Linked DNA regions of Homo sapiens: regions 2, 3 and 4 are each linked to region 1. The links come from fine-mapping of genetic effects on gene expression. A gene starts in region 1. Each other region holds a variant in brackets. All regions are shown on one strand. Distances are from middle to middle. Region 1 holds the start of RUVBL1 (RuvB like AAA ATPase 1). Region 2 overlaps EEFSEC (eukaryotic elongation factor, selenocysteine-tRNA specific). Region 3 holds the start of DNAJB8 (DnaJ heat shock protein family (Hsp40) member B8). Region 4 overlaps LOC102723759 (a long non-coding RNA gene).

The links. PIP is the estimated chance that this variant, and not a neighbour inherited with it, causes the effect.
Region 2: its variant is the best candidate, but not a certain one, in a credible set for the expression of RUVBL1 in whole blood (INTERVAL, PIP 0.59).
Region 3: its variant is the best candidate, but not a certain one, in a credible set for the expression of RUVBL1 in T cells (TOPMed, PIP 0.81).
Region 4: its variant is the best candidate, but not a certain one, in a credible set for the expression of RUVBL1 in whole blood (TOPMed, PIP 0.65).

Annotation. Positions count from the first base shown.
Region 1 is chr3:128,120,573-128,128,115 of GRCh38, forward strand. It overlaps RUVBL1 (RuvB like AAA ATPase 1), which reads right to left and starts at 3,240. Exons shown (of 11, transcript NM_003707.3): 1 at 3,012-3,240. The coding sequence starts at 3,152. RefSeq lists an enhancer at 2,992-3,041 and a silencer at 3,232-3,291.
Region 2 is chr3:128,239,030-128,246,572 of GRCh38, forward strand. All of the region lies in intron 1 of EEFSEC (eukaryotic elongation factor, selenocysteine-tRNA specific), which reads left to right. Among named protein-coding and RNA genes, the nearest start is that of EEFSEC, 89 kb to the left of the region's middle. The variant T/A (reference allele first, on the strand shown) is at 3,433.
Region 3 is chr3:128,462,634-128,470,176 of GRCh38, forward strand. DNAJB8 (DnaJ heat shock protein family (Hsp40) member B8) reads right to left here and starts at 4,257. Exons shown (of 3, transcript NM_153330.6): 1 at 3,981-4,257; 2 at 2,643-2,803; 3 at 1-1,477. The coding sequence starts at 612. It overlaps DNAJB8-AS1 (DNAJB8 antisense RNA 1), which reads left to right and starts at 961. Exons shown (of 3, transcript NR_037890.1): 1 at 961-1,094; 2 at 1,267-1,480. The variant G/T (reference allele first, on the strand shown) is at 4,416.
Region 4 is chr3:128,029,958-128,037,500 of GRCh38, forward strand. LOC102723759 (a long non-coding RNA gene) reads right to left here. Exons shown (of 4, transcript XR_007096073.1): 3 at 5,422-5,543; 4 at 2,038-3,845. Among named protein-coding and RNA genes, the nearest start is that of SEC61A1, 19 kb to the right of the region's middle. RefSeq lists a silencer at 6,209-6,503. The variant T/C (reference allele first, on the strand shown) is at 2,857.

The DNA of each region.
Region 1 (7,543 bases):
AGGTTTGCTACACTGATTTAATAACTGAATACGTGACTATCTAAAAGGTGCTCTTCTCTCTGGGCAGTGACCACACTGTGCCAGAGTCTTGTGAATACATCTTATCTCTTCTACCTCTATTCCTCATGGACTGTGAAGTACCTTGGTCCCACACTTATGGCAGCCCCTCAAAAAATATGTAAGGACTACAGGCGCCTGCCACCATGCCTAGCTAATTTCTTGTATTTTTAGTAGAGAAGGGGTTTCACCATGTTAGCCGGGATGGTCTCAATCTCCCGACCATGTAATCCACCTGCTACTCGGGAGGCTGAGGCAGAAGAATGGCGTGAACCCAGGAGGCGGAGCTTGCAGTGAACCGAGATGGCGCCACTGCACTCCAGCCTGGGCGACAGAGCGAGACTCCCTCTCAAAAAAAAAAAAAATGATGTAAGCAATGTGTGTGGGTATGCTATATCCATCCCATTTCCACTTCAGTTACCAAAGCACACTGCCCTTAATAGAACCTAGAAGATATTCTTCAGATGCTACTTTTCTTTTCTCTTTCAGATGGAGTCTCGCTGTCACCCGGGCTGGAGCGCAATGGCGCGATCTCAGCTCACTGCAACCTCCACCTCCCAGGTTCAAGTGATTCTCCTGCCTCAGCCTCACGAATAACTGAGACTACAGGCGCATACCACCACACCCGGCTAATTTTTGTATTTTTAGTAGAGACAGGGTTTCGTCATGTTGGCCAGGCTGGTCTCAAACTCCTGACCTCAGGTGATCCACTTGCCTTGGCCTCCCAAAGTGCTGGGATTACAGGTGTGAGCCACTACGCCCGGCCCAGATGCTATATTTCTAAATAGATAAAAAACCTAGCCAGGCGCGTTGGCTCATGCCTGTAATCCCAGCACTTCGGGAGGCCGAGGCAGGTGATCACCTGAGGTCAGGAGTTCAAGACCAGCCTGGTCAACATGGTGAAACCCTGTCTCTACTAAATATACAAAAATTAGCCGAGCGTGGTGGTAGGCGCCTGTAATCCCAGCTACTCACGAGGCTGAGGCAGGAGAATCGCTTGAACCCAGGAGGCAGAGGTTGCAGTGAGCCGAGATCGCGCCATTGCACTCCAGCCTGGGCAACAAGAGCAAAACTTCGTCTCAAAAAAAAAAAAAAAAAAAAAAAACTACTATGGTCTTTCCACACAACCCTGTCATATCATAATCCCCAGCACTGAAGCTCTTTGGGAAACCCAAGGTAGAAGAGACTTTACAAACCTTGGAGATGTGCGTTTATTTACAGACCAGGACCTCTTCCATCCATTCTCCCTCAATTTCCACTCCAACTACTCTCAGGTGAGATAAGCTTGAATTCTAACATTTAAAAAGAATTGGAAGGGTCTTTAAAAGATCACCTAGTCTAACTCTCATTTTTCAGGGAGGTTACTGATGTGACCAGAGTCACACAAGAACCTGGTAGCTGAGGTGGGTCTTAGGCATACAGCATCACTCTTAGGCATAGAGCATGCACTTAGGCATAGAGCATGCACTCTGGGTTTAAATACATAGACTTGAGTTAAAATACTGGCTCTCGCACTTACCAGATGAGTAACCTTGGACCTACTTATTTGACCTCTATGAACCAGAATTTCCTCACTTGAACAGAGTTCATACTAGTCAATGGCACACAGGTTAAAGGGTGTAGGGGTAAAGTGTAGTGATGCCTGCAATTCACCTTGAAATGTAAAAGTGGATTGGGAGAGGGACAGATGAAAAGATATATGATAAAGCAGCACAGTAAAATGTTAATTATAGAATTTAGGCACACAAGTATTTACAAGTCTTTCAACTTTTTTTGTGTCTGAAAACTGTCATACTAAAGCGGGGAAGGGACAACTAATACGTTGGATATGACAAGGCAGTGGACATATAGCTACTTAGCACAGTGCTTGGCACATGGAAAGCACTCAACCAATGTTAGCTACTTGCAGTACTAGCTGCTTAGTAAGCCAGGGTCAAACACTTCCTTTTTGGAAAGATGATGCTCAAAATGGAAACCTGAGGCTTTTCTTTGAGGCCTTTCCATTTAGAAAAATCAGGCTAAGAGGCAGTAGCTTAACTTTATATTAAGTGAAGATTTTTGTAGAAGCTAAGGCTCTCCAAAGGCCAAGGGGCATGGCTGTGACCTTAGAGAACAGCAGGCAGAGAGGGTGGCTGTATCATCATAGAGCACTGATTTGGGAGTCAGAAATACACGTGGGTGCAAACCCCAGGTTTACCGTTACTAAAACGAGTGTCAAGCATATACGTGAAGTGCCCTCTCCCCAACTCAATATTTTCACCTGCCAAAAAATAATATGTATGTGAAAGTACTTGGCATCACCAGCACTTAGAAAAAGGAGATTTAATTGGAATGGTCAAAAAGGATGCTTGGAGGGGTGGATAAACCAGATTGCTCTTCTCCATAATTCCCACTTCTCTCCCTCAGTTCCCGGATCCTGGGAACCAAAATGAGCTTTTAAAGTTTAGTCAATTCCCTACTTTAAACCGTCCCATAGCCTGCCACTGCATTCACAATAAAATCCAATTTCCTGACCGTGGCCGACAAAGCCCTGCAGTAACTAACCCCACCAAGATAAGATAATTATTTTTATTTATTGGTGTACACGTTTATCGTCTCTCACTACACTAAAATGTAAGCTCCTATCTTAATTCCCGCTGTATCCCAGTGTCGCGAATAGAGCCTGGTACGAATTAAGGGGACGGGGTTGTGTGGGTTTATATCAGCACTTGTCCATGAGTTGGCAAACCGTCAACTGCCCCCAGTGGATCGTCACTAGGTATCCTGGGGCGGCCCCTCACCCAGCTCCAGGGCGGCGCCCCTCCCCGAGCCCCTGGCCCATTTTCACTTCCCTGAGGAAATAATGGCGGGAGACCCCTGGCGCGCGCATCCCGCCCCGAGCCACCGACTTCAGCAGCTCTCTCGCCGCAGCAGCCCTGCTTGCAGCCCCCAACTCCCTGGTCCACTGGCCACACCTCTCGCGCGTTCTCCTGGCCCACAAGCCCTGAGGCCGCCTGCTTGGCCAAGCCGCTCTCGTCCAGCCCCAGCCCTTTCACGTGGCTGTGGGAGGCGATGCGCTGCGTCTTCGTAGTGCTCTTCACCTCCTCAATCTTCATTTTGCAGACGCCGGGAGCTAAAACCAGCGTGGAAAACCAGCAGCTAGGACAGTGCGCCCGGCGCCTGAGTTACCATGCGGCCGTTACTAGGGCAATTTGCAAAGGCCCGCCTAGACCGGCTTTCCATTGGTGGAAGCGGGAACACCTCCGCTCTCCATAGGCTCACGGCTGCGCCCATCGCGGCTGCTGCTAGAGCTCCGGTCACCCACTTCCGTCTGTGTCTCCGGGTTGGCTTCCCCCGTAGCCGGCGCTTCCTGCCGAGGCTGGGGTCGGGAGCACAGTGGGACCACGCCCCGGATTTGATCTAGGGCTGGGGCGTTGCACGAGGCAGTGGCCCCCGGGTACCACTCCTAATCCTTCCGTCCTATCCATTAGCACATTTGAACGTCATACTCTTACGCAAATCTCAAGTTATTATTTCCGTTTTGGAAACAGAAGAACTGAGGTTCAGAGCTTAAACTGGGATTGGTTACTAACCAATGTTTTCTGACTCCCATACCTTTGCATCTCCCTGGAAAGGCCCAGCTCAACCCACCACCGTTTCCGTGGAATTGTCTTCCCCTGCTTCTATCCTCCATCCTCCACCGAGAGATAAGGTTCCTGCTGAGTTCAGTTGACTGTAAATAACATTTTGCAGTTTTCAAAATTCCACAGCCCTGTAAGGTAGTGTAATTACGCATGCAGCTACAAACAAGCGGAAAGAGGCCCATCCGCCCAAGAAAGCATCACAAATAATCAGAACTAGAAATCTTCAGGCTTCAAAACCTATATAATAATGCTCATCACGTCCCATGACTCCAGCTGAGACAATCAGCCAGCAAATTGTCCCTTCAGGTTTCATAATGATATTAGCACAACCTGCACCACAATTGTACTTGCCATCCATCCATCCATCCGTTCAACAAACACGAGCCAGACACCACAATGCACTGGGGATACAGGGATAAAAGTCTTGATGCGTTTACTTCTTGCTTAGAAAACTTGCAACGTGAGATGTGCTGAGACAGGTACACCCAGGTGGCGAGAAGACCAGAGCAGAAGCCCCCGGAACAGCCTGGAGAGCCAGGGAAGGCATCATGAAGGTGATGTTGCCTTGGCTGAATTCCAACAAATAGGAGAGATTTCCTCAGAAGCAAATGGTATGACACCATTTTTACAGAAGAGGATACTAACATCCAGAGGAAGGGAAGGACTTGCCCAGAGTGCAGGAGAGTTTATGTTAGAATTGAGACAGACCTGAAATCAAATCCAATTACAGTAGTTCCACAGTCTCACACCGCCTTTTTTTTTTTTTTTTTTTTTTTTTTTGAGACGGAGTCTTGCTTTGTGGCCCAGGCGGGAGTGCAGTGGCGCAATCTCGGCTCACTGCAAGCTCCGCCTCCCGGGTTCACGCCATTCTCCTGCCTCAGCCTCCCGAGTAGCTGGGACTACAGGCGCCCACCATCACGCCCGGCTAATTTTTTTGTATTTTTAGTAGAGACGGGGTTTCACCGTGTTAGCCAGAATGGTCTCAATCTCCTGACCTCGTGATCCGCCCGCCTCGGCCTCCCAAAGTGCTGGGATTACAAGCGTGAGCCACCGCGCCCGGCCTCTCACACCTCCTTGTACATCTTGATTCTAACATTTGAATCTAGGTTTCTATATACTTTTTTCTTTTCTTTTGAATCTAGGTTTCTAATGATTTGCATAATTACTGGGTCAATGTTTTTCTCTCCCAGTAAACTGCAGGCCTTTTGAGGGTGTAGACCACATTTGATTGTTTACCATTTTAACCTAAGTGCCTGGCACACAGCCTACAACACAGCTCACAATTAAGGCTTCTCATGAATTCAATTAAGGTTCTAGACCACACACAAACACATACACTTGAATTCATCAGTTTTGCTGCATGTATTTTACACGTTGGCTTTTATAGGACTTGGTAATGATTTCCATCAGTGAATGGAATCTTTTGGCATTTTCAGGGCCTAAAAGAACAGAGGCCAGGCCTTGGAAGGCTGAGGTTGTTACTAGGGCATGTGGTTCATCAGCACTAGAGACAGCACCCCACAAAGTTGCTTAGCCCCTCATTGACTTGTTCCTGGTCATTACTCTTAGAAAAGAAGCAATTCCTTTCTCTATATGGAGAAGGAAACTTTTCCACCAACTAGTAGTCAAAGTGAGGCATTCTATGGGACTGACTTCTTTGTGTATTGTCCAATTAAGGAAAAAGACTTTTTTTACACTTATTATTTCAGCCCTAGTCTTTGTATCTTTTGGCACAGAAAGAAGGATTTCCTTCTAGTCCAAAAAGAGAAAGGGAGAATCAGGATTTTAGAGCACAGAGGAATATCCCCTGGATTACTTGGTCTAGTGGTTTTCAAACCACATTCCCAGCAGTTGTGGAATCCTTTTGTGGCCAGTACGGGTGGGGACAGGGAATGCTGAGAGTGTAGGATACCAGCTCCATGCCCCCACTTCCACCAGAGTTGTTCCTTTGTGTGTGTGTGTGTGTGTGTGTGTGTGTGTGTGCTAAATAACAGTTCAAACATCACTGATGGGCCAGGGGCGGTGGTACACGCCTGTAATCCCAGCACTCTGGGAGGCCGAGGCAGGTGGATCACCTGAGGTCAGGAGTTCGAAACCAGCCCGGCCAATATGGCAAAACCCCATCTCTACTAAAAATACAAAAATTACCTGGGCGTGATGGCAGGCGCCTGTAACCCCAGCTACTCAGGAGGCTGAGGCACGAGAATCGCTTGAACTCAGGAGGTGGAGGTTGCAGTGAGCCGAGATCGTGCCATTGCACTCCAACCTGGGCAACAGAGCAAGACTCATCTCAAAAAAAAAAAAAAAGGTCATTGATCTGGCCTAGCATTCTCATTTTACATGTGACGGAACTGAGGCCCCAGGAAGGGACAGGGTTTGTCCAAGGTCACAAATTGAGCAAATGCCTGACACAGATCCAGTGTGTAAAGATGCTGGACCTGGCTGCAAAGTCAGACAATTTCTTTCATTTCAACAGAAAACAATGTGGCAGGCCAGTATCCAAGCTACACAAGTCCAATAAACAGCAAGTGAGGCCTGCTGCAGTGGACAGGGTTATTCCTGACCAGCGTCCATCCCACTTCTGCGCACCACCACTCTCGTTTTCCTTCAGGAAATGACCGTTCTCCCACTTTGAGTCTGCGTAGTTTGGGCGAACTGACCCCACACCCCATGTTTGTTTCAGTGGTAAACACGTGGCCCTGGCCTGACCTATCAGTATCCCATCCTCTCAGACACTGTAATTGGCTCAGAAATGTGAGCAGCTAGTTCAATGACAGTCAGTCCTGGCAATTTACTGGACATATCAGGAGAGAAAATGTAGGTAATGGATCTGCAGGCTGGTCTTCTTTGTTACTTCATGGGGAGACTCTACCTGAGAATGAAGCCAAGACAGAGGAAAGGAAAGCTGACAGAAAGAGATTCCCGATGAAATCCTTTATATCCCTGCATCATCCTCGCCTTACTTGCAGTGTAACATGGCATTTACTTTGGGGCTTAAGATGTTTGAGTTAGATTTCTATCTGTGGGTACTGAAAATCCATATCAATGTAGTGACACATATGTAAGTAATTGTGTGGACTACTACATTCCAGAATTGTGCTGTGACAGCCCTAGACCTGCCAGCTCTCATTCCCTCACTCCCACGACCCTCTCATTCCCTTACTCCCACGACCTTTGCTCTTTCACCTCCAGGCCTTTGACCTCTCTTTCTCCAGCCCAAGCTTGATTATCTCAATCACTTGTTTCCTGACCCTTCTGCTCCCTCCTTACCTTGACTTCTATCACACCTGAACTTTGAACCCACAAGCCCAGGTCAAGCCTCCCTCTGCCTTCTTCACTGCCTCCTGAGGGCTACTGTGTGTGGCAGGATGCAACTACCCAGTGGTGCCCTGTAACCACTGCACAGTCATGGTCTCCAGCCTCAACTGGAGCAACCCAAGTAATGATTAAATGTTGTTATTTGGCCAGGTGCAGTGGCTCACGCCTGTAATCCCAACACTTTGGGAGGCCGAGGTGGGCAGATCACTTGAGGTCAGGAGTTCGAGACCAGCCTGGCCAACATGGTGAAACCCCATCTCTACTAAAAATACAAAAATTAGCCAGGCATGGCAGCACACACCTGTAGTCCCAGCTACTCGGGAGGCTGAGGCAGAAGAATTGCTTGAACCCAGAAGGCAGAGGTTGCAGTGAGCCGAGATTGCGCCACTGCACTCCAGCCTGGGCGACAGAGTGAGACCCTGTCTCAAAAATAATAAATACATACATACATACATACATACATACATACATACATACATACATAAATACATAAACGTTGTGTTAGTTTTTTGGGGGGCTTCAAGTGATCCTCCCATCTCAGCCTC
Region 2 (7,543 bases), 120 kb after region 1:
CAAGTCTGGTGAGATTTGGCCAGGATGTTTGTGGAGGAGCCTGCCTTTGCAGGGCAGTTCAAACAAAAAGGATGTCCTGCCCAGTGGTGGATACAGTGATCCAGGCTGTTGGCTGGCACTTACCAAGAAACCCCGTGAGGGGCCAGCTCCTGGGTCCACAGGAGTTGGGGGAGGCACTGTTTGTATTCGCTCCATGCTGCCGTTAATACTCTTCCTCTTCCTCCTCTGGAGGGCACAAGGCCTTTGGGTATATGTGAGTCCTAAAGGAAGGAGGAGGCCAGTTCTTGAGCTCTTACTGTGCTGGCATAGTGATACTTGCAGCAGCTTGCATTTAGTGAGTCTGGGGCATGTGGCAGGTGCTGGGTGAGGTGCCCTCCTCCAACTTACTGTGTTGTCTCTGGCATCAGCATCTTCCAAGGAGGAATCCCAGGCTCCAGGAGGTCAAGAGGTGTACTTGCCTGAGGCTGTGCAGCTGGCAGAGCGAGATGCTTACCCTCTGCCCCCGCCTGCCTCAGAACTTGAGGTGGGCTTCCAAGCTGCCACCCCGTTCCTCCTGCCCACAGGCAGCACCCCTCTCTATGAATTCCTTGATCACATGCCTCAGATCAAAACATGCCCTCCCTCTGGGCTGTCTCCTCTACAGGAACCTGAGTTTCCAACTAGAGTGGTAGACACCACTGTCAGTAGAAAACAGAAATGCAATTATTGTTTCTGTTTTACAGATGTGGAGATGGAGCACAGAGAGGGTGAATAGCTTTATAAAACTCCCCTCCATCTGAAACTGTTCATGAAAATGGTGATAACAAGGACCAGGGTCCCTGGAGCCTTCTCCTGTGACTGGGGCCTCCTTTGGCCACCTGGTCCCCACTGGAGGGTCTGGGCCTGGCCAGGAGCCTCTAGCCTGTTAAACTCCTAGCACCTCCTGCAGTCGATGGAGTAACCTGGTGGTTGTTAGCAGCATGGGCAGCATGAATGTTTGGCTTCAGTGAGAGGGCTAAGCAGAAAGGCTGAGAGAGAGTGCATGAGTGTGGCATGCTGCCCTGTGCCCAGGTGGGTGCTAGGTCACAGGCACTGTGCAGGGCCTGGTCGTGACCGCCCTCCTTCTCTCCTCCCCTTTCCCCTTCCCCAACTCCATCAGCAGGCTTTGTCCACTTGTGTTTGCCTGGGGTCTGCCTGGACTAGTGGGGACAGCAGGCCTTGTTACAGTTCGACCAAGAGTGATGGGGCCCAGGTTCAGTGCTCACAGCTGTTAGTACCAGCTCCTGCTTACTGAGGGTGCTTAGGGCTGAGTCTCTCCTAATCTTCTGCAGGAGACATCTTTGTTTAGGTCCTGATTGTGGATGAGGAAATTGAAGCTCCTGGTAAGGTTGTGATTTGAACATATCCAAGCTTGGGGACCTCCAAGCCCTGCTCTTGCCACTTCCTCTTATTTGTGGTCCTTGTTTCCTTGGTCTTTAAAATGACCCTCTTGTTTAAGCCCCTTCCATTTCCAAATCCTCTGAGCCTGTGCTGAGGAGGACAGGCTGGACACTGCTGGTTAGTCCCACACCTTCCTGGTACCAGTAGGAATTTGAGAGGGAAAGTCCAGGCTTACCCTGTTTCAGGAAAACTGCAGAAGGAGGAAAACTAATTCTCCTTAAAACTGATTTTCTCCTTGCTCTCTCTGCAGAATGGGCTGCAATGTGACTGAAGTCTTGCTGCCTTCCCATCCCCTGCCCTTGGCAGAGAGTCAGGGTTGGGACAGCTGCAACCTGTGTTGGATGGAGCCTGATCAGTCCTGGGTTCTTGCCCCTAGTTGGGTGGCTTTGGGCAAGTTATTTAACCTGTCTCAGCCTCAGTCTTCTTACCTGTATAATGAGGAGATAGGCAATACATTGAATAAATGAATAAAAACAGCTGCAAATAATAATATAAGGCTCTCGCCCTGGAGTCTGAGAAGCTGTGTTCTGAGTTGGGGACCTCTGAAACCTGCCCGTTTTGTCCTGGAACACCCGCAGGGGGCTTGTACAGAGCAATTGTTTTATTCTGGACATAAGATCTTGCTGCTCAGAGTTTCAGGGTACTGTTGTAGAGCAAAATCAGTAGACTGAGTTCAAATCCCTCTGAATCCTTGCTCCTTGACCTGACTTGGTTACTTCACCTCTCTAAGCCTTTGTCCTCTCTCTCTCTCTCTTTTTTTTTTTTTTTTTTTTTTTGAGACAGGGTCTCACTCTGTCACCCAGGCTGGAGTACAGTGGTGTAATCAGGCCTTGACCTGCAGCCTTGACCTCTCTGGGCTTAGGTGATTATCCTACCTTAGCCTCCCAAGTAGGTGGGATTACAGGCATGCACCACTATGCCTAGCTAATTTTTGTATTTTGTATAGAGACAGGGTTTCACCATGTTGCCCCATGCTGGTCTCAAACTCCTGAGCTCAAGTGATTCACACACCTCAGCCTCCCAAAGTGCTGGGATTACAAACGTGTGCCACCACGCTGAACCAATTTTTGTATTTTTGTAGAGACGGGGTTTCACTATGTTGCCTAGGCTGGTCTTGAACTCCTGAGCTCAAGTGATCTGCCCACTTTAGCCTCCCAAAGTGCTGGGGTTACAGACCCAGCCTGTTTTCCCATTTGTAATACCCACATTGCAGAGTTGGTGTTGAGATGTAGGTAAGAGGAGATGAAGACATGTAGACCACCACTGTGCATGTCATAATAGCAGATGTAGAAGTGAAAACCGTGGTAACAGCTAATATAATTGAGGATTTCATATGTCTAGGCACTGTTCTAAATTGTTTACATATCTGATCTCATTGAATCTTCAGTGCAATCCAATAACATAGGCAGTATCATCGTCCTTGTATAAGATGAGGAGCCTGAGGCACAGAGAGAGTTAATGTATTTGGCAAATGGTCATAATAATAGTAGGATATTAATTGCCACTGCAGTTTTATATTGTTGATAAAATGTATTTACATTGTTCAATGAATATTTAAAAAGTCACCAGTCAAAAACAAATTTTGGCCAGGCACAGTGGCTCACGCCCGTAATCCTAGTAGCACTTTGGGAGCTGAGGTGGGAGGATCTATTGAGGCCAGGAGTTCGAGACCAGCCTGGGCAACATAGCAAGACTCCACCTCTACAAAAAAATTTTAAAAATAAGCTGGGTATGGTGGCATGCACCTGTAGTCCCAGCTACTTGGGAGGCTAGGACAGGAGGATCGTTTGAGCCCAGGAATTCAAGGCTGCAGTGAGCTATGATTGCACCACTGCACTCCAGCCTGGGCAACAGTAAGACCCTGCCTCTAAAATTAAAAAAATAAATAAATAAATAACAAATAATGGCACACATTTACCTACATAACAAACCTGGTCATCCTGCACATGTACCCCTGAACTTAAAATATAAGTTGGAAATAAATTTTTTTTTCTTTATTTTAAATGTAACATT[T/A]TTTCTCCTTCTTATAATGCCCATAGCTTTGACTTTTTTAAAAAAAAATCTGATTTTGAGGTTGCTAAAATATGTTCAAAGTATAATGTTAAGTTTCTCCAGCTGAAATATTTTTTTCTGAACATATTTTATTCCTTCAGTCCCAAAAGGAAAATTACACCTCACAGATAACTTATGCTTTGTTAAATGCTGACCCTTGTAAGTTTTTCATTATTTTTGAAATGATTAAGATATATAATTTACAGAATTGGAAATTGTAATTTTTAAATGTACTGAGAAACTTTAACCCTATTATAATTATTCTGCAAATCTTTTAAGGATACTATAGTCAGTACAACTAGATGAAAAACTCTGATAGATTGGGAAATATAGAGGATCATTTATAAGCCTTGATTTTTTTGTCTTGTGTTTCCCACCCACTCACTCGCTATGTCCCTCTAGTCTCAGAGCGATTTTCTACCCTGGGTTCATGGGAATTGGGAAGGACACTGTTTGATTCATTCTATGAAACTACTAGGGATTTTGAAAAAGGCAAGACGGGCCAGTTGTGTCACTTCCTGTCGTCTGATCAAAAGTTTGATGAAGAAAAGAAAGTAACTGAGAGCTGCTGCCAGGCAGCAGGCAGTTGCCTGGTGATGACCCCGGGTTTCCAGTGCTAGTCTGGTTCCCAGTGTGGCCAGTCAAGTCCCTCTGACCTCTGGGCTCCTTAGAAGTCCCTGGTGCTGGCTGCGCTGCACGGGGTCCGCTCAAGAGCCTGGCCTTTTGGAACAAAGACGGCTTTTGGATGCTGGATCAGGCTGCAGATGAAATCCCAACTGGCTCCTGAGTGTTTGGGTCCTATCTATGCTTAGTTTTCTGGGTCTGTCAATCAGTTTCATTTCCCATCCACAGGATCTCAATAGGCGTGAGAAGCAAGAGGGCCTGATGCGTGGAGCACATGAGTCATTCCCCTACTGGATAGTTGACTGGATAGTTGTGTATACCAATAGGAAATCGACTGTTGAAGAAGAGGAACAGATTCCTGGTGAATAAAGTAGAAGAGGCAGGGATATGGACATTTGCTGCATTAGTCCAGCAACGATGTATTAAGCTGTGCCCAAGCTGGGTCTTGTGCTGTGAATACAGATTGAAAACCCAGGCCTTGGTTATGAACCCTCAGCATGGAGCCGGGTGGGGCATCAAGGATCAGGGGCAAGTGAACCTGGGGCAGGTGTTCTGGGCAAAGCAGGAGCAGGGGCAAAGGCAAGGAAGGGAAAGGGGCGAGAGTCCACCTGGGTCCTACCTTGATCTTTAGATGGGAAGTGGGAGAGTTGATGGGGGGAGGGGGAGAAATTGTGGGCTGGGTCCCCACTGGGCAGGGCGGGCTGTGTGGCGTGGGAGTTAAGAACCTGGGCACCAGGGTTCAGATCTCTTCTCTGCCACCTACCTGCTGTATAACCATGAGCAGTCAACGGACTTCCCTAAAGCCTCGACTTCCTCATCTGTAAATTAGGGGCTAGGTAGTGGCAGGTGTTTAAGTTCTAGAGGGAACTTGGATAGTCAGAATTACTCTGGAGAAGTCCTTAAGGAACGCATGAGGTTGAGTGGCCTTGGTTCTGTGGGCACAGCTTCACCCACCGGAGAGGGAGGCCTGTGGGGCCAGTGCAGGATCCATTCTGCTGTGAAGGTGGAGACTGGAAAATAGGCTGGGCCCCCAACGTGTTCCTCCCTCCTTGTTCCCTGCTGGGCTTTATCTCATCCTGCCTCAAGACCCAGTCTCACAGCCCTGTGGCCAGTTCCCAGATTTACTGATGGTTAGGACCCGGAAGACAGTTGGGTGTATCTTCTGGGTAGGGAAGGCTTGGGCTCAGCTTGTGTGAGGGAGGCATGAGTGTCATGGGGCCATGGAGAGAGGGCGAAAAGCCCAGGAAAGGGTTTGTGGAGCACACAGCATGGTGCTTGGCACAAGGTGAGTGGGAAGCAACTGGTAGTTAAAAAACAGGGAGCCTCCCACAGCCACATTGGGGAGTCTTTTTTTTTTTTTTTTCCAGTGGACAGTGGGGCTCTTAGCATGAGAAGGGCATGGTCAGGTCTGTGTTTTATTGTATTATTTATTTATTTATGCACTTAAAATTATAATTTTATTTTAGAACAGATACTACACATCCCTGTTTAAAATGAAAAGGAACCGAAGAATGTACAGAGAATTTCCTTCCTACTCATCTTTGGTCTCCCAGCAGACAACCAAGTCATTAGTTTCTTTTGCATTCCCTCAGAGATATTTTATGTGTGTCGAAGCAAATACTTATGCAGTATGTGACACCCACACACGTGCACACACATACACACACACGTATACCTTATCCCCTTTTCAACACAAATCACACTCTGCACATTGTGCCTTGCCCTTCTCACTCACTCCGCCTCGGATATCATTCCATAGTGGTAGATAAAGAGCTTCTTCATTCTTTTAAATGGGTGTATAGTATTCTGTCATGGCATTATAGCATTATATTCTTATTTTCAACCTGTCCCCTGCTGATGGACATTTACCTAGTTTCCAGCATTAGCTGTAACAAACATGCTGCTTGGCTGGGTCAAAGATTATGTGCCTCTGCAGAGGTTATACCAGTTAACCCCCGACCCCCGCTCCTGCCCAGCAGTATATGAATCAGTGATATATTTTTAGAAAGTGCCTTTGGGAAGGCTGTTTGGAGGATGGAGTTTGGAGGGCCACATCTGAGCTGCAGCAGCCCATTAGGGACTAGCCAACATGAGCCTGCCATGGGCTATGGGAACTGGAGCTGGAACAGAGAAAGAGTCCAGAGGAGAGTTGGTAATTCAGTAGCTATGAGAGGGAGTCTATCAGATGAGTCGAGCCTGTTTTTAATAGTCTGTTCTGTTCACGGTAGATGATAGAGTCAGTGTCCATCCCCTCTGTGGCTGTAGCAGAGACCTGGGCCCTCCTGCCCCTTGACCTGGCAGAGGAGATGCTGCTGCTGCTGCTGCGTGCACCTGAGCCTAGCCCTGTGGCCCCAGCTGGCAGGATGAGGAGAGGAGGCTGGACAGGGAGAAGCAGAGTGGGAGACAGGAGGGTTGGGGCATGCCTAGGTCTACCTGAAGTCAGAGAGACACACCGTTCTGTGGGAGGCCAGAGGAGTGTCACAGGACAGGGGTGACCAAGAGGCCTCTTGGAACAGTGGGAAGAATTCTTCAGCAGTGGTGTCAGGAGCCCTGATTTCTAGTGTCTTCGATACTAGTTGGCTGTGTGATCTAGAGCACATGACCTAGACCCATGTCTGTGAGTCTCCGTTTCTTCATCTGAAACATAAGTTTACTGGAGATTAAGTAAGCTGACCTAGTGTGCGTAGTCAGAGTGCCCGAAAAAAGAAAGGCCCTCCCTCCTCCATGCCTTCCCTCTATCCCCAGCAGTGGGATAGAATCAGCATCATCAGAGTCATTCACAGAGCAGTCTCCTCTGCATTGCCAATGACCATAATCCGATCCCGAGAAATGCTTCATGGGCATTCTTATAAGCTCAAAATGTAATTATTCTTCATTTTAATAGGGAAAATGTTTGTATATTCCTGCAGTACGAAGTTACACGCTTCTTGTTGAAATGACTCCAAATCCCGTTAAAAAGGAAACAGTCACTTCACTGGCTAACATTATGTTCCTGACATGATTTATAGCAGTTTCCCTTCATTCACTTTCTGTAACTTGTCTGTCTACCTGCTGTTGTTCAGCTCAGGTGTGCTGTACAGTAGGATGATGCTCACAAGCGTGCACGCACACACACACACACACACACGCACACAAATGTTCAGTACTTAGCGATTATGACACAGAACCTTAGATGCTCCTAACACCCCAGAAGGAATAGGACTGAGCCGTAGCACTGTGAGGAAAAGATGCTGTCCACTCCCTAATCCTCCCCCTTCTGCCTCCTCTACTTTCTCAGTCTTCTCTCATTTCTTAGCAAGGGCAAGTATCTAGCCATTTGCCAAGCCTAGTACGAAACTTTTTTTTTTCCCCCTGCTGAGACATTTCTTCCTCTGTCAAATGGAATGAAAGTGATAGGATTGGTGCAATAGAAAGGCACGGGTTTTGGAGTTAGATGAGCCTATACCTA
Region 3 (7,543 bases), 340 kb after region 1:
CTGCCCGTTCTCCACGATGCGCTTGGTGGTGACCTTGTGGCCATTGATCATCTCGGTGGACGACATCACCGACTTGAACCCCGAGCTGCCAGAACTGGAGCCCCCGAAGGAGGTGGATGAGAAGGTGGTGTGGCTGCCCCCGCTGCAGCCCAGCATGTTGAAGGATGAGAAGGCCTCCATGAAGGCCGGAAATTCTCCAAAGCCTGCCGAGAAGGCCCCCCTCAGGCCATGGCCCCGGCCACCACGGTCACTATTGAATGGGCTGTCCCAGAACTCAAAGGAGAAAGGGTCCAGGCCACCAAAAAACTCCCGGAAGATGTCCTCAGGGTTACGGAAGGTGTAGCCGGTGTCGAAGGGGCTGTGGTAGGGCGTGCTGGCCCCGCCACCAGCCCGCCAGCTGTCACAGCCAGCACGGTCATACAGGGAGCGTTTCTTGGAGTCAGACAGAACCTCATAGGCCTCAGACACCAGCTTGAACTTCTTCTCCGCCTCCTCCTTATTGTCAGGGTTCTTGTCGGGGTGCCAACGAAGGGCCAGCTTGCGGTAGGCTTTCTTGATGTCCTCCGGGGAAGCGCTGGCCTGCACGCCCAGCACTTCGTAGTAGTTAGCCATGGCCAGGGGTGTGGGTGAGAGGAGAGGGAACGTGGAGGCCAGGTGGGCGCAGGGGCCCAGCTGGTCAGATGGACGGGGGAGAAGTGGCCGGTGGTCTGGGGCCCTTCAGCAGGGGCCTGGCTGGACTCCGCAAGCTCTAGGCAAGATTCTGCCCAGGAGTTCACCTTTTCGTAGTACCAATTCTCAGGGACTGGAGGGGCCCCCACTGAGAGGAGTGGGGGGAGGGGAGGGACACTGCCGCTGTGGGGCCAGGCCAGAGTGGGCTGCCCTCCAGAGCTCCTTTTATGACGTCAGCTCCCGGGGCGGGGCATACCCCCGCCCCCAGCTCCTCACCAGGCAAACCTGGGCATATGGGCCTGCCCCTGCTGGTGAGGTGGCCACAACGGTGTGTGGGAATGGGATGCTCTGTGACCCAGGTGGTGTGGGCTGAGTCCCGGGAGCCAAAGGGCAGAGGCAGGATCAGCCACGGGATTCCAGCCTTGGTGAGTGACAAAGGTCTGTGGCCGTGGTGGGGGAGGCGGGCAAGGGCGTCCTGGGTATGTCCACTCGGCCGATGGCTGGGCAGCAGCTGAGGCAAGAGGAGGCCAAGGTGGGGTTCAGGCAGGCTGGGGTGGGGACAAGAGCCTGCTTTTTTTGTGCCCATTATCTGGCCAGGTCTTCCGGGGTAAGCTCCACAAAGGCGGGAAAGTCTGTCCCTGTCTAGGACAGTGGCTGGCACACGAGGGCCGTCGGTAAACTCTTGGATGAACCAGGCTCAGAGACACACAGTGCTCAAGGTCACACAGCGAGTCAGTGAGGGAGGGGATGTGAAACCAGGGCCAAGGCTGCAGCGGACAGCAAATCCAAAGAAGTGTTCCACTCAATTCTGGTAAGAAAAATAGGAATTGATGATAAATATTGATTACTGACTGTAGTGGGTTGAATGGTGGCCCCCAAAAAGATATGTTCCTATCCTAATCCTTGGAACCTCTGAATGTGAGCTTATTTGGAAAAAGGATCTTTTCGGATGTAATTAAATTAAGGATGTCGAGATGAGATCATCCTGGATTATCTGAGTGGGCCCTAAATCCAGTGACACATGTCCGTATAGGAGATGGACACTGACGCAGCTGGAAGCTGGGGGCCAGGAGGGTTCTCCCTGCAGCCTCCAGAGGGAGTGCGGCCCCACTAACACCTCGATTTCAGACCTCTGGCCTCCAGAACTGGGGGAAGAGATTTCTTTTGTATTGAGCTACCCAGTTTGTAATAATTTGTAACAGCCCTAGAAAACGAATCAGGTGAGTGAGGTAACCAAATATTCTTAGGCATTTATATTCCTTTAATTCTTGTTCTGGTGTTGGATCATATATAGAAACAGCAATTCACAATACTGATTAATATCTGTTCCTACCTTCACCTCACCCCACTCCAATTAAGATCAAAACCATGCTAAACCACCTACTAACCACACCAATAAAGAGCCTAGATGTTTGGGTCACCAAGTCTTAACTAAAGATAGCCTTCCTGCCTGCCTTCTTTCCTTCCTCCCTTCCTCCCTCCCTCCTTCCCTCCTTCTTTCCCTTCCCTTCCCTTCCGTTCCCTGCCTTCCTTCCCTCCTCCCTCCCTCCCTTCCCCCTCCTTCCTTCATTTCCTCCTTCCTTCCTTCCTTCCTTCCTCCCTTTCTCCTTCCTTCCTTCTTTCTTTCCTTCCTCCCTCCCCTTCCCCCTTCTCCCTTCCCTCCCTTCTTCACTCCTGGCTTCTTTCCTTCCTCCTTCCTTCCTTCATTCCTCCCTTCTTCCTCCTCTTCCTTTTTCTAGTCTTCATCCCTTTCTATTATCCTCCCTCTCTCTCTTTTCTTTCAGTGCTCATGGGTGCTAGGTTTCAGGCTCCTAGCAGGGGACAGTGTGTGTTCTAACCAATCCCAAATGCCAGGAGGAATGGAGACAGACTGTAGAGACACTTTGTAAACCCAGCCTCCAGTGACCATCGCTGTCCCTCCATGCAGCTTATCAAAAGCACGACTCGCACCCCCATGCTGGGCATCCACCCACCTACACCTGCTGACACATGTGGCTTAGCAGAGGAGTTGAAGAGCAGAACTTCTCCACTGGATGTAGCTACAGATGAACCTGATTCTTTATCTCTGTGGCTGGATTTTTGTCACTATGTCTCGGTTAGCAGTTAGCACCTGCTGTCCCTTGCAGGCTTGTTCCTGGGGCGGGAGAAAGATGCTTGCCCTGCACAGTTCTCCATGATGGCGGTGGCAGTGGGAGAGGCACTGCTGTTGACTGTGTTGCTGGTGGGGAGAGGCACGGTGGGTGTCCATGGAGATGGATAAGGTGTCATTATATAGTAGAGGTGACCATGGGAGCAGTGTTGATGTGGAGGTAATGGTCATGGTGGGTGTGAGGGGGAGAGTAATTATGGGTGATGGTGGAGTTGATCATGATGATGGTGATGCTGGTGGTGACAGCAGCAAGGCTTGTGCTTGAGAGTAATTGATGATGGTAGTGGTGGTGGTGATGGTCATGCCAGAGGAGATGGTAACAGCGAGCCTTTGTTGTGGTTGGCAGTGATGGTGCAGGTATGATGAGGAGGTGATGGGAATGGCTCCTAGTGAGCCATTGGTGTGGTTGGCAGTGGTGACAGTAATGGTGATGATGAAGGTGAAGGTGGTGGAGGTAGCAGAGGTTGTATCTTGTTCGGCTATACCACAGTGACAGCTTCCACCTCTCAGTGGCTCACGACAAACATCTAGTTCCCCCCACTTCACTCACTGGTGCCTACAGGCAGCTGCCAGGGCCCCACCTCCCATAGCTTCTCACTGTGGGTCCCAGGCTGGAGAATCAGCTCTGACCTGCACACCCCTCTCTCATGACAGTGCCACTCAGAGACAGCAGGAACTTGGGCTGCCTCTGAAAGCTTCTGTTGGGCCATGATGTGTGGCAGTCTTGCTGCATCCCATGGTCAAGGCCAGTATCCATGGGGCAAAGAATGTTTCCTTCAGGAAGGTTCTGCAAATCTCAGGGCAATAGGAAGAGAGGCCTGAGATTCCCATGGGGAAGAGGGAGTGAGCAGTTCTCCAACATATGCCAGATGCTCAAGATGGGACTGACAGCGGGGCTGGTAACGATGGCTCTGCTGGGAGCAGTGTTGGTGCTGCTGGTGCCGGGGACACCCGTGGTGGTGATGGGATAGGAGGCAGGAATTGTGCTATTAATGGAGGATGGTGGTGAGGGTGGTTGTGGAAGAGGCAATGGTAGAGGGGGGTGCCGAGGGGTGAGAAGGACACAGTGGTGGACATGCTGGTGTGAGTGCCGATGGCGATGGTGATGGCACTGAGGTGTGGGGCTCTGTATTTTCTGTTGCTAACTTGGCATTACACCAACCTCTTCCATGGTCTCCTTGCATCCTGGAGAAATCTGAGGGATTTTCCAGAATCCCATCACCGGTATAATTCCAGACTAGAGCCTGCCAATACAAGGGATTTGGAGAGTGGAAAAGAGAGGCCGTTGCAGGCAGGTGACAATGGTGAGCTTTGCAACAGCTCGGGGCAATCTTCTGCGAAGACCCTGCTTCTGAGCCACAGGCTGAGGCATGGATGGGGAGCTTCCTGGAATACCGTGAGCTCCTCAGCAGCTCCCAGGCAAGCTCTAGAGAGCCGCTCACCTGGGAGCTGCAGGTGAGCATCTCGATTCCTTGTTCCCTGACCGCTGGTCCCAGACTGTTCAGGGTGCAGCGTGTAGTAAATGTCCTCCTCCTTGGTACACATTTGAGGGCTGTGTACTGTGAGGGTGATGGCGGCTCAGATGAAGGTGGTGGTT[G/T]TGATGGAGTTGGGTGTGAGGATAGCAGAGAGAAAGCAGATGGTGACATCAGGAAGGCATTGGAGGGGCAGTGGTGGTGGCAGTGATGATGGTGGCAGTCTAATTAGAGGCAGTGGTGGGTCTGGCTGAGGCAGACCCGGTGGTGGTGATGGTGGTGGTAGTAGAGGGGGCAATGACGGTGGTGATGGCAAAGGCGGTGTGAGTGGTTGATACTGGTGGCAGAGCTGATAAGGTGATGTCACAGATGGGATGGTGGGTGGAGATGGAGGTGGAGGAAGTGTGGTGACAGTGATGTGGTGGTGACACAATGCTGACACGGGTGGAGAGCACCGTGGTGACGGTGACAGAGATGATAGTGATAGTGGGGCTGGTGGCAGTGGTAGAGGAGATGGGGATGGGACGCTGGGGTGTTGATGGTGATGGTGACACTGCTGAGGGTGTTGGTGGCCTGACATTGTAAAGGTGAAGCCTGAAGTTTCCATGACGATGGAATCAGGACAGTGGAGGAGGGGTGGTGAAAACAATGTTAAGAGACAAAGGACCTAGTATGATGAGGCATCCAAGAATCCTGTGGCCGCCTCCCCGTCCTGGCCCTCCCTGCCTTGTTGGAGACCCTGGCTCTGGTCTGCGTTGTACTCCCAGGGGAAATTTCTTCCAGCCACTGCCCTGCTCCAACCCTTGTTCCTGGGATGGGTCTGTGGGAGTCAGCCAGGATGGAGACAGGGCTGGAGACCCCCTCACTGCCGCCCATTCAGGGCTGTCTTAGGGCACACAGAACAGACCACTCGGTAGGACTTACGGGAACAGGTGTGTCACCTGGGAGCAGGTCCCACACCTCACCATCAAGGGCATCCTGAGATGGAGGCCCCTGTGGGGAGCTCCCCATGAAGGGAGCTGTGGACCGTGGAGCCGGGCAGTGTGCAGAGGAGTTTCCCTTCTGCAAAGGGTTCAGGCTAGTCTCCTTCCACGCCAGTTTTTGGGGAGCCAGTGGGGAGCATCAGGGGCTCTGAGGCCTCCATAGGGCCTGCTGGAGGGACAGGGACACACAGGCATGAGCGCACACTTAGGCCCCACACGCTCCACCGTCAATTCTGTCAGGCCACCTCCCCTCTTCAAGCCTCTCTGTCCTCATTCACCAGTGGGTGCTTTTGGGGATTTGCCCTCTCTGGGGAGCCAGCCTAGGCTTCCTGGCCTCAGATGTCCCATGTCCCTCATCTCAGGCCCACCCTAAAGCCAACCCCGAGCCATGGCCAGGGAGAGAAGGACCTTCAGCGACCAAGCGAGGCCCAGAGAGGGCAGGGCACACCGAAGGTCACACAGCAGTACCAGGAAGGTCTCCCCCGGGCGAGCTGATGGAGCCGATTAAGCAGCCAATTGGTATTCGGAGCAGCCAGAGGCCCCTCTCTGTCTCTGTAATTAATGGAGTGGCTTTTTAAAAGGATTCTAATCACCCCCGATCCTATCTGCTTATCACTAGAGTTCCTAATTAGATGATCCTGGCAGTCACTCAGCTAATTCCCTCCAGCCCCCTGCAGGCCTGCCTGGCCTGGGCAGCCCACCCCACCCCCGGCCACCCTGGCCCGGCCAGATGGGCAGTTTGGGGCCTTCTCTCCCCTCAGGGCCCCTGGTCCTCTAACTGCATTAGCTCCAGGATGGATGGGCGACAGCGATGGATGGATGGACGGGCGGCTGGATGGACAGAGTGGCAGGCGAATGAAGGGGCTGAACGGTGGGCAGTCACAGAGTGGATGGGCGGATGGACAGACAGACGGGCCAAGGGGCAGATCCCACAGTGGGGAAGAGCTCAGCCTGTCAGGTGACACAGCCTGGGTTCCAACCCCAGCACTGCCACTCCCCAGCCATGTGTCCTTGGGGAAGTCAATAACCTGGCTGTGCCCCAGTGTCCTCATCTCATCTGTAAAAGGGAAGTAATGATGGTCCCCTCTCACAGGGTTACTGTGAGGAGCTCAGAATGGAGAAGGAGCTGTGTGTGCGTGTGCTGGCATCCTGGCAGTGTCGATAATGGGTGGGCAGAGACAGATGAAAGGGCAGCCTGCCTGGTGAGCCAGTGGAAGCCATGGTAGGCAGACAGGCCCATGGCAGGCTTACATGCAGATTGGTGGCCCATGGGGTGGGAAGGCGGTGGGCTACGCAACCGTAGAAGGGCCAGTGAGCTCACGTCCTCCCCAGTGGTGCCAGGGCGATCTCAGCTCTGCTCTCAGACCTCTTCAGGCAGCCTTCCTGCCCAGTCCTCCAAGCCAGTGATGACAGGTGCCCACTGGGTTGCCCAGATCCCTTCCCTGCCATCCCAACCCAGGTACATCCTTCCTGGTGGTGGCTCATGTGGTCTCTGGAGGCTCAGATCTAGCCCCAAGTAGGGGTTTACTGCCTGAGTGAAGGCATCATTTGCGGGGCCCTCTGAGTTCCAAGTTGCTTCAGCCAGTTAGGGCAGCTCCCCTCCTCCAGGGTCCCAGCACCCAGCCCCCCTGGCATACAGCAACCCTAGGCAGGGCTGTTACCCTGAGTTCCTCAGTTACTCGAAGCCTCCAGGAGGATCCAACCCCCAGAGCCTCTCCATTCACCCACGGGGCTCTGCAGTTTCCGGGGTGTGGCATTTCCGGGGTCTTTCTGGAAACAGTATAGAACAAAAAAGCCTGAAGTATCTTCCAGAGTAAAGGCGTGCATGCGTATGCACACATCTGTACCAGCAGATAGCCACCCATCTCCCCATACACACACCCATCAATCCACCCACCTAGCCACACACATACCCAGCTACCCACACACCCAGCCACTCACATACCCAGCCACTCACCCACCCAGCCACCCACATGCCTAGCCACCCACCCACCCAGCCACCCACACACCCAGCCACCCACCCACCCAGCCAGCCACTCACCCACCCAGCCACCCACACAGCCAGCCACCCAGCCACTCATACACCCAGCCACCCAGCCACCCACCCACCCAGCCACCCAGCCACCCATACACCCAGCCACCCAGCCACCCAGCCACCCATACACCCAGCCACCCAGCCACCCACACACCCAGCCATTCACACACCCAGCCACCCCCCCACCCAGCCACATGCACACCCAGCCACCCAGCCACCCACACACCCAGCCATT
Region 4 (7,543 bases), 91 kb before region 1:
TGGCTACTGTGAACTTACTTTTTTTATTTTTAAGACGGAGTCTTGCTCTGTCGCTCAGGCTGGAGCACAGTGGCATGATGTCAGGTCACTGCAACCTCTGCCTCCTGGGTTCAAGCGATCCTCCTGCCTCAGCCTCCCAAGTAGCTGGGATTACAGGCATGCACCACCACACCTGGCTACTTTTTGTATTTTTAGTAGAAGAAGGGGTTTTGCCATGTTAGCTAGGCTGGTCTTGAACTCCTGACCTCAAGTGATCCTCCCACCTTGGCCTCTCAAACATCTGGGATTACAGGCATCAGCCACCACACCTGGCCATGGCTATTGTGAATAGTGCTATAGTGAACATGGGAGTGCAGATATATCTTTTGCACATACTGACTTCATTTCCTTTGTATCTATACCCAGCAGTAGGACTGGTAGGTCATAGGGAGTTCTATTTTTAGTTTTTTGAGGAACTGCCATATTGTTTTTTGGGGTTTTTTTTTTTTTCTTTTTTTGAGATGGAGTTTCACTCCTGTTGCCCAGGCTTGAGTGCAATGGTGCGATCTCGGCTCACTGCAACCCCGCCTCCTGGGTTCAAGCAATTCTCCTGCTTCAGCCTCCCAAGTAGCTGGAATTACATGCACCTACCACCACGCCCGGCTAATTTTTGTATTTTTAGTAAAGACGGGGTTTCACCACATTGGCCAGGCTGGTCTTGAATTCCTGACCTCAGGTGATCTGCCCACCTTGGCCTCCTAAAGTGCTGAGGTGACAGGTGTGAGCCACTGCACCCGGCCTGCCATATTGTTTCTCATAATGGTCGTACTAATTTACATTCTCACCAACAATGTACAAGAGTTCCCTTTTCTCTTGTTGTCTTTTTGATAATATCATTTGAACAGATGTGAGGTAATATACTATTGTGGTTTTATTTGCATTTCCCTGACGATTAGTGATGTTGACCATTTTTTCATATACCTGTTGGCCATTTGTATGTCTTCTTTTAAGAAATGTCTATTCAGGTCCTGTGTCTTTTTTTTCCAGACAGGGTCTCTCTCTGTCACCCAGGATGGAGTATAGTGGCACAATTATGGCTCACTGCAGCCTCAGCCTCCCAAGTAGCTGGGACTACAGGTGCATGCCACCACACCTGGCTAATCATTTTATTATTTGTCAAGACAGTCTCGCTATGTTACCTAGGCTGGTCTCCAGCTGCTGGGCTCAAGTTATCCTCCCTCCTCTGCCTCCCAAAGTGCTGAGACTACAGGTGTGAGCCACCATGCACGGCCTTCTTTGCTCATTTTTAATAGAGTTATTTGTTTTCTTGCTATTGTGTTCCTTACACATTTTGAATATTAACCCCTTATCAGATATATGGTTTGCAAATATTTTCTCCCATTCCATAGGCTGTGTTTTCACTCTGATAATTGTTTCCTTTGCTGCGCAAAAGCTTGTTAGTTTCATATAATCCCATTTGTCGATTTTTGCTTTTGTTGCCTATGCTTCTGGGATCAAATCCAAAAAAAACCATTGCCTAGACCAGCATCATGAAGAATTTCTCCTATGTTTCTTCCAGTAGTTTTATAGTTTCAGGTCTTACATTTAAGTCTTCACTCCATTTGGGTTGATTTTTATATGTGGTGTGATAGGATCCAACTACCTTTTTCTACATGTGGATGTCCAATTGTCCTTCCCCATTGTGTGCACTTGGCACTTTGTCAAAGTCAACCAACCATTTATGCATGGGTTTATTTCTGTTAAGACACTATTATTTTGAGATTTAATTACCACTGGTATATCTTAATTCCTAGACTCATCACACTACACGGTAGCGGTGTGTCCACATTTCTTTCTCCTGTGCCAAGACGGGAGCTCCTCCATGGCCCACAGCCTCAGCACAATGCCTGGCCATTAAGACTCAGAAGCAGTCTCTCATACATCCTGTTAGCCCTTCCCAGCTTCTTCTAATGGCCAGATATTTTACATATATTATTCATGTCCTTCACCAAGTAATGACTGAATTACCTATGTGCTAGGCCAGAAGCCAAGTGTGCATTTTTACAAATCTTCATAGGTACTCTGTAAAGTAAGCACTACTCTACAAGTAGGAAAGTATGACTTGCCCCCCTCCCTCTACATTATCTGCCTGGTGCAACTCAAAGCCTGGCTAAGTCTGACTCTCCTCCTGCCTCACTCTGCACCCCAGCAGTTAATGTTGCTGGGGAAACAGCAACCAGGGGACTGGTTTTACTTCAAAGTCAAGACCACAGGCTGACAGAGGCGTTTGGGAACCTGGGCACATTAATGGGTCAGGACACGCTCTCATTGTCTTAGTGGGGCTGTCTCAAGAAGATGCGGGTGGCAAACCTCAGCACAATGGTACCTGAGGGAAGGCTGCCTTTTAGGCATCTTTCAGGGCCTGCGGGATAGCATTAAATGCAAAAATACAAAATTACATTTTAATGATGTTCAGAAAAGAGGAGTAAGGCATAGCACCCCAAGATAGCCCCCAAGATGTGGGCCTACTCCAAGATGACAGAATCACAACCTCTCCTGTCCCTTCCTATTCCATCTTCACCCTCAGTTGATGGTGATCTTGCCTCTTCTTTCACAAGAAATTAGAGCAATCTGAAGAGAATTCCCTTATCTTGCTGCCACTAAATCTACAGGCATCTGCTCCCATATATTCTGCTGTCCTGTCCCAATACACAAGCTTCAAGGGCTCCTATCTAGGGTCAGCTCCTCCATTTGTAAACCAGTCCCCATTTCTTCCTGCCCATGAAATTCCTCATGTGTTAGCATAATCCTCCTCTTTCATGACGTTTTCACCCTGTAGTGGATTATTTCCATCAGCATCAACAGACATTCTGTCAT[T/C]TGTCCCCTCTTTTAAGATCCCCTAGCAACTTCCTGTGCTCTCCAGCTCTTACCCCAATTCTCTGCTCCTCTCTACGCCAAATCCTTTAAAGAGCTGTCCATATAGGTCATAGCTACTTCCTCATCCCCAGTTCTCTACTGAACCCTCTCTACTCAGGCATCACCCCATCATCTTCTGAAATTGGCTTTGTCAAGGTCATTAATAAGCTTGATGTGGCCAAACTCAGTGGTCAATTTTCAGACCTCGAGTTATTTAACTCCAAAAGTAACACATGAATCAAGAGGTCAAATGTAACCCACAAATGTGTTTTGTTTGGACAACACAGTGTTGGTTTTTAGTTTGAATTCACTGCCAGCATTAGAAATCAGGATATTCACATAAAAATCTAGATGTCAAGTTTCTCTGGAAAAATCTGAAAGTCTAAGCTCACATTCCTACCTGGCAATAGACTGGCAGTGAGTCATGGCTGACTCTGGAGACAGGGCATGGGGTTTCCAGTTTGCCAGTCCCCACCACTCAGGATTGGCACATTCAGCTTGCTTCACTTACTTATGTCACTTTCCTGGCACCTAGAGGCATTTGCATTTGTAAACTCTAGAGTAAGACTTAAAACTCACAAGTTATGAGCACCTATGTTTCCTGCTTTATGAAAGAAGACAAAACAGTGGGAGAGAATACAGTTTGTGTGTATAAAGCAGCAGCGCTGAGAAGCAGTGAACCTCAGCAATGGCTGAGTTTCTGGTTCTAGGCATCCTAAGTTTCTGGTTCTAGGCATTCCAATCCATCCTGCAGTTCAGCTGTTCAGCCAAACCTTGAAGGTCATTAGTTTTCGTATATCTTTCCTCTTGCGCTGATTTTCTACTTGATCTTCTATCTTTAGACCAGTGATACAGCTTTTAATTGCTAGCTTATTTAACCCTTGTATTGGTTCACTGATTGTTCCACTGTTCATGTTAGTTATCTGGTTTTGCCCACCTGAGCTGAACTCCTGGAAGACAGATACAAGTTGACACCACGGTTCATCAAAAACAGCTTTGGTAGTACAAGTCATTCATTTATCTCTCAACATAGCAGTATAAAGATTTTCTTTTTTCTTTTTTCTTTTTTTTTTTTTTGAGACAGAGTCTTGCTCTGTCGCCCAGGCTGGAGTGCAGTGGCACGATCTCGGCTCATTACAACCTCTGCCTCCCAGGTTCAAGCAATTCTCCTACCTCAGCCTCCCGACTAGCTGGGACTACAGGCGTGCGCCACCATGCCTGGCTAATTTTTGTATTTTTAGTAGAGCCGAGGTTTCGCCAGGCTGGTCTTGAACTCCTGACTTCAGGTGATCCACCAGCCGTGGCCTCCCAAAGTGCTGGGATTAGAGGTGTGAGCCACTGCACCCAGCCAAGATTTTCTAATATGTATAATTTCTAGACCAACAGTATTTTATTTTTTTTGAGACAGAGTCTCACTCTATTGCCCAGGCTGGAGTGCAACGGTGCAATCTCAGCTCACTGCAACCTCTGCCTCCTGGGTTCAAGTGATTCTTGTGCCTCAGCCTCCCGAGTAGCTGGGATGACAGGCGCATGACACCATGCCCAGCTAATTTTTGTATTTTTAGTAGAAACGGGTTTCGCCATGTTGGCCAGGCTGGTCTTGAACTCTTGGCCTCAAGTGGTCTGCCCACCTAGGCCTTTCAAAGTGCTGGGATTACAGGCGTGAGCCACCATGCCTGGCCAACCAATAGTATTTAACTATATGTTGCAAAATACATAAAATCATATATGTGACTAGATCATAGTGAAGTGCACTGTGAGTAAGCTCTTAATAATAGTTTTCTTTGGTAGAAATCAGATTGAGCCATCATTTGGCCTTTTAAAGTGGTTTCCTGAAAGGGGAATGAAGGTGGTACAGAGGCCCAAGGGACTGTTTGCACATATAACTGTCACCCATAACAGACATCCCTGCAGGAAAAAACTATTGCAACTAGCTGTTCTAGAAGCCCAAGTCCATCCCATGATCATTATATACTTTTCTATAATGAGAACGGAATACATATAAAATACACCTTACAATTCCCTTCAAGGACTGCTACACCAAACTGAAAACTTTCCTCCCCTTTTTAGGTCTCATGGACGTCAATATGAATAAGTTTTATATAGTGGTATTATGGGCTGAATTTTGTCCCCATAATATTCATATGCTGAAGTCTTAACCCTTAGTACCTCAGAATGTGATTGTATTTTGGAGATAGGGTTTAAAGGAGTGACTAAGTTAACATGAGGCTATTAGTGTGGGTCCTAATTTAATATGACTGGTGTCCCTATAAGAAGGGGAAATTTGGACACCACAGAGAGGTACCAGGGGCGCATGTGCACAGAGGGAGGACCATGTGAAGAGGTAGCAAGAGGGCCATCTGCAAGCCAAAGACAGGCCTCAGCAGAAACCAACCCCACAGACACCTTGATCATGGATTTCGAGCCCCCAGAACTGTAAGAAAATACCCCAGCCCTAGCAAACAAATATAACCTGGGTTAAATATGAGTATACTCAAGAGCAATTCATATACAGCCACCACTTACCCCTGCATGGAACAGCCCAGGCTGCTGTTTCTGCATTTGCTTCCCGTGGCAGCTATCACTTCTTATTGCTGGTAATGCCTTCCTTTGCTAACATCCTGTCCCTTTTACTAAACTGACATTGCCTGAAAAGATAGATACCCATAAGAGTTAAAACTGTAACTTTAGTGACATCAGTGAAATTAACAGAGTAAGGACCTCTGAAAATTCTCTCCTCCATAAAGGCAACATGAAGCCTAGCAAAAATGGTCAAAATCACGTATTCAGAACTCTGAAAAGTAACCAAAGGCTCGCAGCAGTCTAGGAGCATTTATTCTGGAAAAACATTTGAGTCATGATGAAAACAGTGAGCTCTGTCCTCCTTCATCCTCTCCCTGTTTCCTAGTTCTGCAGTTACCTTGAATACCAGCAGCCTGGCAGTCTCTAGAGGAAGCAGAATAGAGTTAGAGTTCCTTCAATGCTCTATTCCAACAGAAGTCCTATTATTTGACTTGTCTGGAAGTTCTCTGGAAGATCCCACTTGCAAGGCTGTCTTATTTGACTTGAGTTGAAACTCAGAGCTCACCCAGCGCAAAAAGCCTTTGCCCGGGGGCATTTCTCAAAAACATTTAGAGGGAATTATTTAATTTCACAACTGCCTGAGGCAGTGAGTAATGTTTAGGACAATTAATAGGTTACCCGAAAGGATTTTTTTTTCAACTGGGAAATGGGCATCCATAGGGGCTTGGAAAAGCTCCAAAATATTCCTATGAATCTAGAAGGCCATTTGCACTGGCAGAGCACATATTTATGCCCATGGCTGTTCACATGGTTGGGATAACCTGAGAACACCCTAAACTCTAACATCAGGCTGACCTTGAGGATCTACACCAGCAGAAAGTGAAGGCTAAGGCAGAGCTGTCAACTGCATGCTGAGTGTTGAACACATACGCAGAGCCTCTCAGCAAACATTAAGAGACCTATTGGTTTCAAGTGTTTCAGGAAATCTGTCTAATCATTAGCTGACATTAAGCTATTCAAACAGAGACTTCAGTGGCCATATAGAACAAAGAATACAGAGTTTACAGAATTTGTGCAGGTAAGTTACTAAACAAACAAACAAATAACAAACAGCAACAAAAACATACCCTGGGGATGGGGGAAAATCTGATTTCCAAAGTTGACACACTTTTTTTTTAATGTCCAGTTTTGAGCAAAAAGTTATTAAACATGCAAAAAATAAATAAAAACCGAAAAAGTATGGCCCACACACAAGGAGAAAAAATCAACAGAATCAACAGAAATTATTCCTGAGAAAACCTAGATGCTGGATTTATTAGGAAAATATTTTTAAATCATCAATTTTAAATATGTACAAAGCATTAAACATGTTTAAAGCATTAAAGGAAAGTATGAGAACACTATCTTACCAAATAAAGAATATCAAGAAAGAGATATTTTAAAAATAGAAATTCTGGAGTTAGGCCAGGCGCAGTGGCTCACACCTGTAATCCCAGCCATTTGGGAGGCTGAGGCGGGCAAATCACCTGAGATCGGGAGTTCGAGACCAGCCTGACCAACATGGAGAAACCCTGTCTCTACTAAAAATATAAAATTAGCCAGGTGTGGTGGCACATGCCTGTGAGCCCAGCTACTCGGGAGGCTGAGGCAGGAGAATCACTTGAATCTGGGAGGCAGAGGTTGCAGTGAGATTAAAAAGGAAGAAATATTTCAAGTCAATAACTTAACCTTCTACCTTAAGAAACTAGAAAAGTGGGAGCAAACTAAACTCAAAGCAAGCAGAAGGAAAGAGATAATAAATATTGGAGTGAAAATAAAATAAAAATAGAGAAAATCAACAGAATCAAAAATTTTATTCTTTGAAAAGATTAACAAGGTTGAAAAATCTTTAGTTAGACTAATTAAGAACTAAAAAGTCTCAAACTGGTAAAACCAGTAATGAAACAGGGACATAATTACAAATTTTACAGAAATAAAAAAGATTATAAACTAATACTACGAACAACTGTATGCCAAAAAATACATAACTTATATGAAATGGAAAAATTCCTAGAAAGACACAAACTACCAAAACTAACTCAAGAAAATGGAAAATGAATGCATGTATTATAGGAGATTAATTTAG